2 separate regions of the Homo sapiens genome follow, and region 2 is linked to region 1. The links come from fine-mapping of genetic effects on gene expression. A gene starts in region 1. The other region holds a variant in brackets. All regions are shown on one strand. Distances are from middle to middle.

What was found. PIP is the estimated chance that this variant, and not a neighbour inherited with it, causes the effect. A credible set is the group of variants that fine-mapping cannot tell apart.
Region 2: its variant is the best candidate, but not a certain one, in a credible set for the expression of EEFSEC in whole blood (TOPMed, PIP 0.84).

The regions. Positions count from the first base shown.
Region 1 is chr3:128,150,833-128,155,228 of GRCh38, reverse strand. It overlaps EEFSEC (eukaryotic elongation factor, selenocysteine-tRNA specific), which reads right to left and starts at 1,748. Exons shown (of 7, transcript NM_021937.5): 1 at 1,406-1,748. The coding sequence starts at 1,721. It also overlaps a transcript of RUVBL1 not described here. RefSeq lists a silencer at 1,238-1,757 and an enhancer at 1,888-2,117.
Region 2 is chr3:128,343,284-128,347,679 of GRCh38, reverse strand. The region is part of intron 5 of EEFSEC (eukaryotic elongation factor, selenocysteine-tRNA specific); the gene reads right to left. Among named protein-coding and RNA genes, the nearest start is that of DNAJB8-AS1, 120 kb to the left of the region's middle. RefSeq lists a silencer at 3,839-4,252. The variant G/T (reference allele first, on the strand shown) is at 2,355.

The sequences.
Region 1 (4,396 bases):
GCAGGAGAATCGCTTGAACCGGGGAGAAAGAGGTTGCAGTGAGCCAAGATTGCACCACTGCACTCCAGCCTGGTAACAGAGCGAGACTCCATCTCAGAAAAAAACAAAAAAACAAAAAAACAAAAAACGGGTCTTTTCATTTGCAGAGATAGGAGGGGTACAGAATTTAGGACAGAGGAGTGGGTAAGGGAATGTTTGTCTTATTTGTGATGTTCTATTTCTTCACAAGTAGCATGTATTCATGTATTACATGTATAATTAAAAATTAATGGTACCTCTTTGTGGGGCATTTTGGCAGTACCCACCACGACCGAAAACACACATGCCCCTTGCCCCAGCCAGTTATTATCTATTATCCTACATATATGCGAACATACCAAAGAGTTCTGTTCTAGAATATTCACTGCAAAATGGTTTGTAAATACTGGAAACAGCATAAACGTCCATCATTAAAAGATTTGTTCAGAAAATGTTGGTACAGGCCGGACGTGGTGGCTCACGCCTGTAATCCCAGGACTTTGGGAGGCCAGGGCGGGCGGGTCATGAAGTCAGGAGTTTGAGACCAGCCTGACCAACATGGTGAAACCCGTCTCTACTGAAAATACAAAAAAATTAGCCGGGCGTGGTGGCGCGCGCCTGTAATCCCAGCTACTCAGGAGACTGAGGCAGGACAATCGCTTGAACCCAGGAGGCGGAAGTTGCAGTGAGCCGAGATCGTGCCACTGCACTCCAGGCTGGGCGACAGAACAAGACTCTGTCTCAAAAAGAAAAAAAAAAAAAGAAAAAGAAAATGTTGGTACAAGGGTGCAGTTGAATTCTATGTGAGCTTTAAAAAGAATGATGTAGCTTTGTGTACAGATATGGGGCACTCTCCAGACACAATGTTGAGTGAAATCGTGTCTAAAAGGATGAGGGAAAGAGGGATTTATACATACACACAGATATGCTTGTATTGACGTGGAGCCTTTCTGAAATGATATACAAAAACTGGTAGCAGCGGTTGGCTCTAGGAACGGGAATCAGACCAAATGACAGGTGAATGAAGACAGCCTTTGTATGTATACCCTTTTTGTAGCTTGTGAGTTTTCTTATTTTGAGTTTTCTTTACTTGACCATGTATTATAAACACATTTGGTAGGGATTTTTTGATTTTTTTTTTTTTTTTTTTTTAAGGAAGGCGCCTTGCAGCTCGGTTCTGCTGGATGGGAAAAGCTGAATCTCAAAGCCTCCGCTCACTTGCTGCGGAGCCCTAGGCAAGTCACGTCCGCCTCTTGGGGCGTCAGGAGCCCCACCAATGAGGTGGGGCGATTTCCCGTCCCGGCAAAGGCTCGAGCGAATTCGGACACGGGGCCCGGTCGCTCCGCCCGCGTCCCTGAGCCCGGCTCCCGCCCCGGCCCGCGCTCACCGCCGATGATGGTCCGGATGAGGGAGGCGTGCCCGGGGCAGTCGACCAGCGTGACCTGAAGCAGTGGCTCGCCGGGCTCGGGCTCGGCCTCGGGCGCTGCCTGGAACTCGGGCAAAGACGACCGCAGGCGCGCGGGCAGCGGCACCGAGAAGCACGAGAAGCCCAGATCGAGCGTGATGCCGCGCTCGCGGCTCTGCGGCTGCTTGTCAAAGGCGGCGGTGGAGGCTGTGGTGCTTAGCGCCCGCGCCAGCGCCGTCTTGCCGCTGTCGATGTGGCCCAGCACGCCCACGTTCACGTTCACCCGCCGCCCTGCCATGCCGCCGCCGCCGCCTCGGACACCCGCCCGGCCCGCCCCTCACCTCCCTCGGTAGTCGCCGCGGTCCGGCCCGTTAAGTTGCCCCCCCGTAACCGGCGCGCTGTGCACACCCGTTCCGGCCCGGAAGCTTCCGCCCTCCTGAGGCTCACGGGCACAGCCGAGCGCCGTGCTCCGAGTGGGTGGTCTAGGAACTGGAGGTCACCGTAGGCAGGGTTTCTCTCTCACGTGGCTCCTCCTGCCTGAAGCCTCTAGGAGCCCGAGATGGAGGGATCCTTCTGAGAAGTGAAGCCATTTGGACTTTCTGGGTGAGTGGAGACTTGGAGAACTTTTCTATAGCTATCAAGAGGATTGTAAAATGCACCAATCAGCGCTCTGTAAAACGCACCAATCAGTGCTCTGTAACATGCACCAATCAGCAGGATCCTAAAAGAAGCCAATCACAGGGAGGATTGAAAAAAGGGCGCTCTGATAGGACAAAAACGGAACATGGGGGGGCGAAGGGGGGCGGGGGGGGCGGGGTGGGCGGGGGGAAGACGGGGGCGGGGGGGGCGGGAAGACGGGGGCGGGGGGGAGGGCGGGGGGACGGCGGGGGGCGGGGGAGGGCGGGGGGACGTGGGGGAGGGGGCAAATAAGGGAATAAAAGCTGGCCACCCCCGCCAGCAGCAGCAACCCTCTCAGGTGCCCTTTCGCATTGCAGAAGCTTTTTGCTCTTCACAATAAATCTTGCTGCTGCTCACTCTTTGGGACTGTGCCATCTTTAAGAGCTTTAACACTCACTGCGAAGGTCCGCGGCTCCATTCTTGAAGTCAGCGAGACTAGGAACCCACTGGAAGAAACCAACTCCGGACACACTTCCAATCATTCATACATTTCAGCAAGATCTTACCAAGTGCCTGGTGGGTTCCGCTGGGCTACAGTGCCCGCTAATATTACATTCAGGGGGTGAGGGCTAAGTCAAACAATACAGCCTGAACCAGACCATTTCAGAGAGCGAGAAGTCTCCTAGGGAAAATAAAAGCTGAGATAAAAAGGAGCAGGAGAGGGAGGATGGACAGCTACCTAACTGTGGGTCAGGGAAGACATCTAGGAGTTGCTGTTTGAGTTGAAACTCCAGTGTTGAGAAGGAGCCAACCATGGGAAAAGATGGTTTGAAGATGGAAGAGGACAACATTATCTCTGACTCAGAAATTCTCACCCTGAGAGTCTGTAGCCTGGGCTTAGGAGAGGCCACAAACCTCTAAATTGAACGCACAATGTGTTGTGATGTGCTCTTGCTAGACAGAGGGTCGACAACTCTCACTAGATTCTGAAGTGTCTAGAACCACAAAAAAGGTTGTCAGCCATAGTCACCAACCAGAGGTAACAAACCTAAGTGTCTGCTCTGGCCAGGTGGTGGGTAAATCAAAGAAGAGAAGTTAAAAGAGTCTAAGATGACAGGGAGTGGTGGGGACCTGGGAGACCTGGAGAGCCCTTTTCCTGTGCAAAGAGGGAAGCCACTGCTCAGTCTCAGCCAGTGATACCAGGCAGGAATGCTAGCCCAACATTGCCTCCTCCTTCCATTTTTCTGGAGAAGAGAGTGTTTTTGTAACACTGTGGCGGTGGAGCACAAAGTTCACAGGATCTTACCTTTGCCCTCTGTGATGAGCCAGACCATGTGCGGATGTATTCATGCTTGCAGTAACTGCCTCCTTCGTTCCACCACTCTCCACTAGGAACAGAGTCCATGTCATAGACTGAATTGTGTCCCTCTCAAATTCATATGTGGACACCCTGACCCCCAGTGTGATAGTATTTGGAGATGGGACGTTTGGGAGGTTAGATGAGATCATGAGAGCGGGCCCTTGTGATGGGATTAGGGTCCTTACAAGAAGAGAACAGAATCTTTGTTTCCGTTTTCCCACCTTGCAAATAGGAAACTGTAAAAATACGCCTCCCATTAAAAAAAATCTAGTAGTAAAAGCAGTAAACGTATTTAAAAGGGAGGGTTAGTAAATAGGTAATAAGAGCTTTAGAGGCTTTATGTACCTCTGAGAAATATTTCAACTAACAAAGACTTTGTACAGGGCCTGGCTTCAAATAAACCTCATTTCTTACCTCTGTTTTAAACAGAATCCTGAAATGGTAATGAAAAGAAAAAAGGTTTGGCTGGGCACGGTGGTTCATGCCTGTAATCCCAGCACTTTGGGAGGCTGAGGCAGGCAGATCACTTGATATAGTTTATATATCTATATATAGAATATATATAGATTTTATATATAGATATATAGAGTATATATATATAGAATATATACAGTGTATATATAGAATATATAGAGTATATATAGAATGTATATAGAGTATATATAGAATATATATAGAATATATAGAATATATATAGAATATATATAGAATATATACAGAATATATATAGAATATATAGATATATAGAGAATATATAGAGAACATATAATATATATAGAATATATAGAATATAGAATATATATTATATATATAATATATAATATAATATATATAATATATATAGAATATATAATATATAATATATAGAATATATAATATATATAATATATAGAATATATTATATATATAATATAGAATATTATATTATATATATAGAATATATATATAGAATATATATATATAATATATAATATATAGAATATATATAGAATATA
Region 2 (4,396 bases), 190 kb before region 1:
ATTTAAATAGAATTTGGCCATTCACATTTAGTGTAATGACTGATACTTAATGTTGTTCCTTCTGTTATTATTATTATTTATTAACATTGTTCTTTTTTCCTTATTTTTGTTGGTTTAATCAAATTCATTCCAGTTTCTCCTCTGAGAATGTGAAAGTGCTATTACATTTTCACTGCATTCATATAGTTTCTTTCCCTTTCTCTGTACTCAAAATCTTGCACATATTTCTATATTTTTACTTTGAAACAGGATACCAACTATTTCCCTTATCACCATATGCTCTAGTAGTCTTTCCTAAACCCTCTCCCCAGAAAGATTAGCCATTTAGAACACTTTCACTTCTTTTCTTCTCCCACTCAGGTGAGACCTCTGGATGTCTCTACCAATCCAAGCTCCCTCTTCTTCTTTTTTTTTTTTCTTCATTAACCCTTTATTACAAGTCACACTCTTATAGAAGTACACGTGGACTTATGTGAAAAAATCAAATGTATCCAAGAATAAAAAACACAGCACATAAAGTAGTATATGCATCCCAGTGTTAGCACAGAGACAGTGGGCACCCAAGAAAAAGCCCAATTCCTAAGGACTGCTGAGAGGGTTTAATGCTTTCAGCTGCAGATAATTATTAGCATTTTCCTCGCAGGGTGCTCATTCTATTTCAAGAGCCCTATTAACCATTTATATTAGGGGTTGGAAAACTATAGCCAAAGGGTCAAATTCTTCCTGATACGTTTCTGTATGGCCTGTGACCTAAGAAGGGTTTTTATATTTTCTAATGAGTTGGAGAATATCAAAAGAATATTATTTTGTTACATGTGAAAACTATATAAAATTTAAATTTCAATGTTCACAACAAAAGGTTTTATGGGAACACAGTCATGCCCATTTGTTTACATATTGTCTATGGCTGCCTTTGTGTCACAGTGGCAGAGTTGAGTAGCTGAGTCTGAGACCTGATGAGGTGCTCAGTAAACTACAGATGGTGGTAACATAGTTACAACTTGCAGTACCTCACCCAGTGACACATTTTATTTATTTATTTATTTTATTACTGGTGCATACCCATCACATGAAAACAAGAAAAGTGGACTTCAAATGTCACACTTTTAAGGCGCAGTGGGTATGGATTATTATTTTATCACATTACATGGCAAAGTACTGTGTTTGTTATTAGTTGTGTTAACAGAATATGAGATACACTGACATCACGATATTCCCATCTCACAGAAAAACAATGTCAAAAAAGAGAAAACTTAAAACAGTATATTTCATCATAGCAGACACGCAAAACAATAAAAAATAAGAATAAGGCTGCAACCAAAGTAGGTTTCCGGGTGGCTCATTTGTTAGCCAAGCAAGGAAAGCCATTTACCAATGGTAAGTTAATTAAATTGTGTTTGATCGAAGCAGCTGAAAGAAGAATCCAGAGAAAATAAGCTTGTTTAAGATTATTAGATTTGGAGCAAGAGCAGTTGTTTAGGTTTGGCCCATGGGCCATAGTTTGCTCTATGTAATACTAATGAGTTAAGCCACAACTGGTAGGGTACCTGACCAGCTTCCAGTGTGAGCCAGTGATGCAGACGCACAGGAAATAAAAACACAGTCTGCAGAGGCTTGGAAATTAGCATCTTCTGTGTTTCAATAACTGTCCTCAGCATCACATATTTACATCACGCTGTTATTTTCTTTCTAGACCTTATTATAACCTGAAAATGTCTAATTTACTGTTCACTACTAGCCTCCCCTAGGAAGACAAGAACTTTGTCTATCTTGTTGTATGCACAGTGCCTGGCACAAACGTAGGAGCACAGTAAACATCCGAATATATGAATGAAGGATGCCTTTATAGGAAATGGGATCAGAAGGCCTATATGCCTTAAGCCCCCCTGGCGGAAAGTGCTCACTTAACACATAGGTATAGTGCCAGGGTCTCCCTTTGTGATGAACTGAGATAGCTCAGAGACCCAAGCCCAGGTTCTCAGAAGGCTAACTGTGCTTGCAAAGTAGATGTGCTGGCCTTGCCCCGAATCACAGAGCAAAGGCTGGGTGCTGGCTCACCAAGGTGGTGGAGATTCTGCCCAAGAGACTGGATTTCACCTTTTCAAGATTCTCTGATCTTCCAGAAACTTCTTTGAATAGACATGTCCAGAAAGCTGACTAGTAACTGTGATGTGCCCAGGAATTTTTAGAGTCAGCCAAGCACGGTGGGGAAAGAAGAGCATAGGGCACTTCTCTGGCCCCTGCGCTGGATAACCACACCCATGAGCCTACCAGACTCTCAGCCCCTCCCTCTTCAACCAAAACTGTGTGGCTCCTGATAGGGACCAGGGGGATTGGCTCCTGTGCTTCAAAGA[G/T]AAATAATGGAGTCCCAGGGAAAAGAGTGGACCCACGCTCCAGGCATTATTATTTTGACTCTAAGAGCTTAAACATTAATAATGATAAAACAATAACGATGCAGTAGGAGACAAGCACTGATCTCAGAACCTTATGTGCAATCCCCCATCTCACCTTCATCTAACCCTGGTGCAGCACTGTGAAAATTCCCACTTAACATGGAAGTCTCATGGTCTGCTCAACTTTTCACACTAGCAGGTGGTAAGGCTGGGAGTAAATAAAGCCCAGGCTTGCACATTGGACCAGTCTGTCGGATGGCTGAGCCCCTGGTCAAGCAAGATGACCTGAAAATCTCTGGGTGATCTGGGGCCTACTCAAAGCAAACAGGGCTGCCCCTTTGGAACAAACTCAGCCAATCACTCAGGAGCTGCAACAGGAACACTACCTTCTTGCTTCACCTGATGAGAGTCGGCTCTTACATATGAAGCCACAAGCTATGGTGGCTCTTTCAAAACAACCTGATGAGGTCAAGACCATCCTTCGAAGGAATGAACAATTGAGATTAAATGGCTGCCCAAGGCGTACAGCTGTTTTGGGTACAGCAAGGGCTTGAGCCTACTCTGTATGATCTCCAAGTTCCACCTTACCAGGAAGGAAAGTCTCCCACCAAGGAGATTCGAGCTTTTCAAGAGAACGCAGACTCTTTTGACACACTGGGCAAGAATCTGTCTGACAAAGTGGAAATTTCATGACTCAAAAGAGACCAGCTAGTCCTGAGTTCAAACTCCAGCTTTACTACCCTGTGACCTTGGGCAGGTCACTTCACATTTCTTGGGCTGGTTTCCAGTCTGGCTGCCTTTGGGGAGGGGACCTGGGTTCGTAGGAAGAAAACTTCCTTACACTGAATAATTATTGTCTTGTTTGAAATTTTTTACCATGTGCATATATTACTTTTCCTAAATATTTGCACATAATTTGATTGATTTAATTGGGGAAAAATGTACATAGGAAAAATAATGACCTCTTCCTCAGGGTTATTAAACGGTTTCAAAATAAAGTATGTAGCTAGTAAAGGCGCATAGTATATGCTTAATCAGTAGAGTGGTGACAGAGTGGAGGGAGGCAGGAGGCAGGCTCATTCCTGCCCTGGGGCCCAGAGGAGAGCATGTGGCACAGAAGCCCCAGCCTACAGCCAGCCCCTAGCATTAAGGCAGGTGCCCATTCAGCTAGAGCCTCAGGGGGTTGCGAGTTGGGGGAGCTGCTCCTAGCCTGGGCACCCATGCCCTTTCCTCCCTTGTGGAGCCTCAGGAAGGCCTTCTTCCTCGACCAAAGCCCTGGGCTCATAGGATCTCACCTCTGCACACATCCACAGTCACCCTGTGAGGCTGTCCCTGGTTGGAGGAAGCCTGTCTCTGCTCAGGGTTGTCTATATGGGATTTGGACTCAGCTTCTGTGGACTGCCTACAGTTCTTGTGCTTCCACTTCCAGCCTCCCTGGACTGAGCAGGAAAATGCTGGTGGCCCCAGGTTGGTGGAAGGACATAGGCCAGGCATGTCTCCTGGCCCCTCCCTCAGCCCTTCGGAGGCATGAGTCATTGAGGCCATATGTTTACTTGCTCCTCACAGACCCTCCCTCCCAGTTCTCAAAGGAAGTGACTGCTGCACCGCTGTTGACAGGCCTGAGTGGGAGCAATTAGACCCAGGAGCCACACCAATTGGGATATTACTCTCTCATAGATATTTTACTATAGAATAATTATACTCCAAACACTGCTAATAAATCAGGCTAGACAAACGAGTGACACACACTTTATCACCTTCATCTTCAATCAGCATCTTGGGGCTGGCCTAAGGCTGATGGAGCCCTGAGCAGGCCCCAGCGGCCCCCCCGGAGCTAAGGGTCCAAGCTCTGGGTCTGAGGAAGGGAGAGGAAGGGGTTGCTCCTCAGTCCCCCACTTGAGGGCAGGTCTAGGTACAGGGGCAGGAAAAGAAGAGGGCCAGGGTGGAGCACCCAGGAAGAACCTAAGACAAGGAGAAAGGGAGGGGAAGGGGCTGCAGTGACA